Linked DNA regions of Homo sapiens. The protein of the gene in region 1 interacts with the protein of each later gene in a pairwise test. Each region holds a gene or a part of one and is shown in the gene's direction. Other genes may lie near its edges. The genes, in order: HIVEP1 and SP4.

Region 1 (3,823 bases):
CTGCGAAGCTGACAAGGCAAAGTGAGTGCATTTCATCCTGGGGTAGCAGGTTGTGAAATAACTTGGGGACTCTGAGCAACTTTAAATGGTTCTCTACTTCTAGAGCATAAGAAGTTCTCTTCAGGAGGGATGAGAAGGAGACAGAGAGGCAGGATACTGGAGCAGGAGAATCAGGAGGAATCAGATCAGGAAAGGCCCTCAGATTTAAGCCTACATTTCATATGTAGAGTTAAAAGTTTTAATAAGAAAACTTGCTTCTTTAAGATATTTTTAAAGTTTTCAAAGAGAACTTGGAATAAATTGTGTCTGACTTGTCTGTGAGCGTTTAGGAAGTTGTTTGACTAAGGTAGTTAAGAACTCACAGCCACTAAAGAAAAGATTGGAATAGATTAGCTCTAGTAAGCACACTAAAGCCACCTCAGTGGGACTTCTGATGGGGAAGGGGAAGACTTCAGGGAAGCGGCGGCTTCTGAGCCAGTGTAGCTCACTCAGCAGCGGGGGACGGGAGTGAAGCTCTAGGTCCCCATGGGAAACCCTGAGTAAGCAAAGGGACAGAGGGGTTGGTGCTCGGCGGTGACACCTAGAAACTTCCGCGCTCCTCACAATGTCTGTAAGGACTCGAGCCCTGGGAAGGATGTGGGGGTTAGAGTAAGCAGGTAACCATCAGCTCCTGAGATTAATTTTTGAGCGTATCTTTAATATCTCATTGTGACAGTTTGGAATATCAGGTTTGTTGTGCCCTACCTGTGATCCACTGCTTTGCTTTACTAGAAGACATCTCTAATGCGATGAGATAAGAAATGCGGGGAGAGGAAATTGGGAGACCAGAAGAGGAGTCACAGCCCAGTTTGCCCCTACTGTTTCTGCCGTCAGCTCAGGAGCTTTCAGGAAACCCATCGCCTCTTTTTAGGCTTCCTGGGGGAAATAGTCTGAAATGTTTGTCTTGTGCTTGGTAATCAAGTCCGTATTAAAAGGCAGATACCTGATACTTTCTCAAATTATATTTTTCTTATGCTTCCATGGTAGTTTCACCTCTTAGAATGTAATCTTTCTTTGATTTATTCTTGGTTCTCCTGCTGGGACAGATATATCCCTACGGATGTGCAAAGCCACAGGGTAACATGTATCTTTCAGGAATGTGAATTTTACTTGGGGAAAAATACGTATACTTGTCTGTGTGTGCACACGTATACACATATTAAAGTATTAGGCAAGCATAAAAATGTGCAATACCGGAATCTATCATGGAAGAGTATAGAAAGTTTGCATGGATTTGAAAATTAAGCCTGCATAGACTGCTTTTATAAGGAGATGGAGTATCTACTTCTTTGCTCTTAGAGGTTGTTTACTAGAAAAGGTATAAGAAGAATTGTTAGGTTAAGGGCAGGAAACAAATTGGGGACATAAGTGAGACAGTGTCCGACTTGATGGGTGATCTGTATACTGTGTAGGACTGTGGTTTTGTTGAATTCAGTCTCTTCACCCTTGGCCCAGCGTTAAACCAGATAGAATCAGTTCTCCATGCCTGTTTCCCATCTGCAGGAAACGTGGTGGGTGCCGTTTTGACACCGACCTATCCTTTGTGAGGTTGAAGAATTTTGGAAGAGCATGAGAGCAGCACTTGGTGTTCAGAAGAAAGGCTTAGCATGTTGTCCTGGGTTCCGTGGAGAAGGGTCACTGGACTGCACGGGGTGGCTCTTCCGCATGGTCTTGGTGAGTTGACAGCAGGGCAGCGCTGTGTCTCCCAGCCATCATTCCTTACTCATCGCTGCTCTGTGGAGGGGTTATCTCCACCACCTTCTCAGGCCTTCGCTTGGACCCTTGAGTAACATGGAATGGAGGAGTTGGTGACTTGCAGGGGGTTCCATGCCTCTTCCGTTGTGATAAAGGGCTCTATTCGTGTTTTGCCACTCATTCTTGTGAATGTGTTTCAAAGCTTTGAAAAAAAGGAAAAGAGGTGTTACTTACTTTAGTTGTATTTGGGCCTAGGGTTTCAGAGCTTCATTTCCTTTAAGATTGGAAGTCAGTGTGGAAAATACTAAGTATTAACCTTTTGCAAAACATGTTTTGAAAATTTGGTGTAGCTGTTTTTCATTTTTATTGGTTGAGTTCATTTGGCTCCGAACACTCTGCAAAAAATGAGAACTCTTTTCCTGTCTGAGAACCAGATTTCTTTCTTTCTTTCTTTTTTTTTTTTTTTTTTGAGACGGAGTCTCACTCTGTCACCCAGGCTGGAGTGCAGCGGTGTGATCTTGGCTCACTGCAAGCTCCACCTCCCAGGTTCAAGCCATTCTCCTGCCTCAGCCTCCCAAGTAGCTGGGACTATAGGCGCCTGCCACCACGCACAGCTAATTTTTTTGTATTTTTAGTAGAGACAGGTTTTCACCACGTTGGCCAGGCTGGTCTCAAAACTTCTAACCTCAGGTGATCCAACCGCCTCAAAGTGCTGGGATTACAGGCGTGAGCCACCGCACCCGGCCCAGACTCCTTAAAATGTGAGAAGTAGCACTGAGGAATGTGATCAGATCATGGCCTTGATTGACACATGGGGTCGCTTTCCACGGTTGGCCTTCTTGTTCTCCACGGCATCTTGTGCATAGCCATTTGCCATTTCAGGAGCTCAGCATGCACATCCGGTATTTCTGTGCTTGGTTGTCTTTCTGGAAGTTACTTCTTCTCCTTTTCCATTTCTACTGTTTTCTTACTCTGTATGGGAGATGTCTCTGCTAAAGATTTCACCTCTGAGTTTTTTCCCCCATTTTCTGTTCTCTTGTCAGATATCCTCCTCCCCTCCACAGACATGCCCTGGGTCTCCTTTGCTTGTGTCCACATGTGCCTTCTTGTACTTACAATATTACATCATGATCATTCTTCTCCAGGTCTCTTATCTTAGCGGGATTATAATATGTTAGAAGAGACCATTTTGGTCATCTGTGTGCAACAGAAGAATATTTGGTTGTGTTAACTTTTTGTTTTTGAGACGGAGTTTCACTCTTGTTGTCCAGGCTGGAGTGCAGTAGTGCTGTCTTGGCTCACTGCAACCTCCGCCTCTAGGGTTCAAGCAATTCTCCTGCCTCAGCCTCCGGAGTAGCTGGGATTACAGGCCTGTGCTACCACCCCCGGCTAATTTTGTATTTTTAGTAGAGACTGGGTTTCACCATGTTGGCCAGGCTGGTCTTGAACTCCTAACCTCAAGTGATCCACCCGCCTTGGTCTCCCAAAGTGCTGGGATTACAGGCATGAGCCACTTCACCTGGCCTGGTTGTGTCAACTTTTTAGCAAACTAGAGGGTTGAGATGATTTATACTCAGGGAATTTGTTTACATTTTTGAACCTCGAGTAGGAAATGCTTCTTCCAATATTTGGTAGCTTCTGATTAAAAACTTGTGATAATTTTAATTGCCTGAACAGATAAACCAGGTGGTTATTGTTAACTTTTGTTTTATATGAAATTTTACTTCACATACAGGATTTTTTTTTTTTGAGACGGAGTTTCACTCTGTCACCCAGGCTGGAGTGCAGTGGCACGATCTTGGCTCACTGCAACCTCCACTCTCCAGGTTCAAATGATTTTCCTTCCTCAGCCTCCTGAGTAGCTGGGACTACAGGCTCCTGCCACCGCACCCAGCTAATTTTTTGTATTTTTAGTAGAGATGGGATTTCACCATTTTGGCCAGGCTGGTCTTGAACTCCTGACCTCGTGATCCACCCGCCTCGGCCTCCCAAAGTGCTGGGATTACAGGCATGAGCCACCGTGCCTGGCCCATATACAGGATTTTTATAGCTTATCCATTTGGTACATTTAATTACTATAAAGACAAAG
Region 2 (3,823 bases), on another chromosome or scaffold:
GAAGTGTTGAATTTTAAAAAATACAAAAAGCAGACTGATGTACTGGAAACAGAAAAGTATTTCCTCCATACTATAAGTTGTAGTTGTTTGGAAATATATCACATAACCTTTATACAGAATCTTCCCATCTCTTAATATCATGTGTTAACATGTTTAAAAAGACCTTAGTAGTTTGCAGGCTGGACCTTAATTGGACTTATTTTCTTTGAAAGTACTTTGTTATAAATTCAGTCAGTAATAATTTACGTGTATTCTTTTTCTCTATAGCACAGAAAACAGATAGTTAACTGATGATAGGGATAATACTGTATTTCCTTAGCTTGATTTTTGGAAAATCAACCGAAAATAGTTTGGCCGTCTTTTCTAAATGTTAGAAATTCTTCAACAGTTGAATTAGGTAAGTTCCAAAACAGTAATCTGAGATGCATCTCAGATCTTTATTACCACTACATTATAGTAGTGTGTATGCAGACAATCAGTGAAGTCCAATTACTTTCTCCATTTGGAGACACAAGAGGAACATAGAGTTAAATCTTAGGTTAAATTTTAGGTTGACACCTTAGGAAAATGCTGGGAAAAAAATGGTTAAAACAAAACTCATCATAGCTTCAGAAAAATAAAATGAGGCATCTTAACATGCAATGTTCTAAAGTTAGGATTGATTATATTCCTAACCCTAGGTTGAACCACAAAATTTCATTTAAAATGTTTATATTTGGAAATATTTGCATAGAGTGTAAATTGTTCTGTAGTTTCATATTTTGTAAATATGAGTTATGTTGACAATGTGCAGAATTCTTTATGCTTTGATGTGGTAGCCAAAGAAAGAATTACACTTTTTTCCAAGGCCAGCAGAAAATTCTCTTTTAACTACATTGTAATTCTTGTTTTCCTCTACTAAAAATTGGCCAGTCCCATTTTATTTCTAGTGCTATGTAAGAAGGTAATTAGGAATTATAACACAGTAATGTTTTTATGTTACATCAATAACTGAATTTTCCCTAAAAATTAGCCTAATATATAATAGATATATTATGAAGCAAAACTTTTATTTTTGAAAAGGCAGAATAATTTTCAGTGAAGTAAGTGACTAAAGAAAAAAACTATATTATTGTTTATGCAAGGGTCTTACAGGAAAGGGTCTTTTTTTTTTTTTTTTTGAGATGGAGTCTCGCTCTCTTGCCCAGGCTGGAGTGCAATGGCACGATCTCAGCTTACTGCAACCGCCGCCTCCCAGGTTCAAGCGATTCTCCTGTCTTAGCCTCCTGAGTAGCTGGGATTAACAGGCGCCTGCCACCATGCCTGGCTAATTTTTGTATTTTTAGTAGAGACAGGGTTTCGCCATGTTGGCCAGGCTGGTTTCAAACTCCTGACCTCAGGTGATCTGCCCACCTCGGCCTCCCAGAGTGCTGGGATTACAGGCATGAGCCACCATGCCCGGCTAGGAAAGGGTCTTACTAGGAAAGATGGCCAAAAGTTTCATATGAAAAAAATTGGATTATAAACCAGTAACTTAAATATTAATAAGGATATTTTATGTTTTAAAAAAGTATTTACACAGAATCATAATCAGTGAAATTGACCATTTGAAAACTAAAAGTTTTTACCTACCTGCTCAATTTATTAACATCATTGCTTTGGGGACTGTTTGAATATAGGTACGTGTTTTCTTGTGCATTCTCTATAATTTCAGGAAAAGTACTAATGCGAATTCTCTTCCAAAATTGTGATGTTTCTTGTATTTTTGATGAAGGAGAAATACTGTAATGATCACTGTTTACACTATGTACACTTTAGGCCAGCCCTTTGTAGCGTTATATAAAACTGAAGGTCTTTTGTGCTTTCAGTTTGTATAAAAAAGCTTTGAGATTAAAGGAAAAAAAAAATTTTTACACTGTGGTTATAAATTTCAAGTTTCTTAAAGCTTTTGTAGACTTGTAACAGAGTCTTTAAATTTAAGTTGGATTTTGTAAATTGTTTTGTATATTTTATTTAATGTACTCTTAACAACTGATGTATCTGGCTTTAAAACATCAGAATTGGTTTGTTGTTTTGTTTGGTACAGAGGAGCATTTGGTAGTGTTCATTTTAATTTTATTATATAGGAGCTGAAACATCAAATATATATTTTATCTATCATTATGCTACACAATCAGTGCTATAAATTTTTTTATGCAAAGAAACTTTCTTAATGTTTTAATCATGTTTCCTCAGAGTGACACTTTTTGTTGTTGTTAATACCAAGTATGAACACTCTGCATCATTATTCCATGAACCAGTTCTAATGCAAACCTATGTATGTCCATTAGAAATGGAAGTTATTTTTTAATCAACAATGAGGCCTATTATAAATTTATCAGATGAATCTAGATAGCTTTATAGCATATAAAATATGTTAATTTGTGTTAGCAGGTGCACATTTCACCACTGAAATTAGAAATATTTTGACAGTCTGTTCTGCATACCATTCTGAGTCTACTTTTCTGTCTTTAGAAGAATCGTAAATTTCAGTGTCCTTTATTTGACTCAGTGGGATATAGCTGTTATAAGTAATAGGGCACAGATGTGCAGTAGAGTCTTGTTTAATGGCATTTCACTGTTCATTCCCTTTACCACCGTTATAAAACTTTTCTTTATTGTAATTATCAGTGCAAAGCTATGTATTTATCATGGTAAAACTCCAGTGTTAGAATAGTTTTTTCTTACAGTATACTTTCTTTGGTTAGGTTTGTGTATGTGTTGCTGATTACATTAGAACTTGATGTTAAGTCATTTATCACACTCTCATGAGAGCAGTAATAAAAGTGTGTAATCTAGGAGAAAAAGTTAATTTGTCAAACTTAGATAAGCATGATGTTTAGGTCCTATTTTTCAATTTTATAACTGTTTTATTGCAACAATATTTGTATTTAAGTCTCCATTTTAATGCCTTGTGGTGTTTTTTTATGCATGTCACTAAGTTGTCATCCCACATAAATTGATGTGCAGCATAGGGTATTAAATCTACATAATGATTTTAAAACAGAAATAGTTGATGGTAAAATGTAAATGTTTTGCAAAAATTCCTTATAAAAAGTTTTGTAGTAACATTTCACTTGTAAATTTTTTTTGTAAAAAAAAAAAAATGAAAAAAAAAGATGAATCCAGAAAAAAACCTGTTTCCCATATTCTAGAATTTAGACAATTATTCTGCCAGCAAAGCCTCTGGGGCTGTAATTGACATTTTTACAGTGCTGATTTGTATAAAATTTGTTTTTTGTGGATTTGGAAATAAAATCATGTACAAGTTGTTGCCTGCAATAACAATTGCAAGTAACCTATTAAAAATTCCCTTGAGTTTAACATGTTTCATTTAATTATGTATACTATAAAGCAGCAATAAATTATTTGAACTATCAACCTACTTATCATGAACACTGGAGAGTTAAATGCTTCTCACTGGAGAACACATTGGCCACCGTTCGTAATTCCTCGTATTGAGATCTGGTCACCATTTCTCTGAACATACCGCCAAAGAACTCCAATTCAAATTGCATGTTAATTTGTAGCCATTGCTCTAGACATTTATGGAAATTAAAATTTGATTTAGAGACACTTTTTACTTAAATATTTTAAGCAATCAATGTTAGGAAATTATAGGAAGACCTGAAAACGAAAAACATAATTAAAATATTATTTAAGCTCACAGAATCACTGAGAAGCAATATAGGCCACATAGATGCCACAAAGACTACAAGCAGAAACTGTCTTCCTCCTGGGAGAGCCCTGCAAATCTCATGAAGACCTTTAGTAACATAATGAATACATTATTGTAACAACTTCA

What was found.
Region 2: the proteins of HIVEP1 (region 1) and SP4 interact in a two-hybrid assay, tested with the Homo sapiens proteins (one large-scale study listed by BioGRID).

The regions. Positions count from the first base shown.
Region 1 is NC_000006.12:12,018,706-12,022,528, forward strand, and holds part of HIVEP1 (zinc finger protein 40), read left to right. Parts: intron 1-1,542; exon of another isoform or gene 1,543-1,646; coding exon of another isoform or gene 1,647-1,713; intron 1,714-3,823.
Region 2 is NC_000007.14:21,511,420-21,515,242, forward strand, and holds the end of SP4 (transcription factor Sp4), read left to right. Parts: 3' UTR 1-3,403; downstream 3,404-3,823. UniProt on the Homo sapiens protein: Binds to GT and GC boxes promoters elements. Probable transcriptional activator.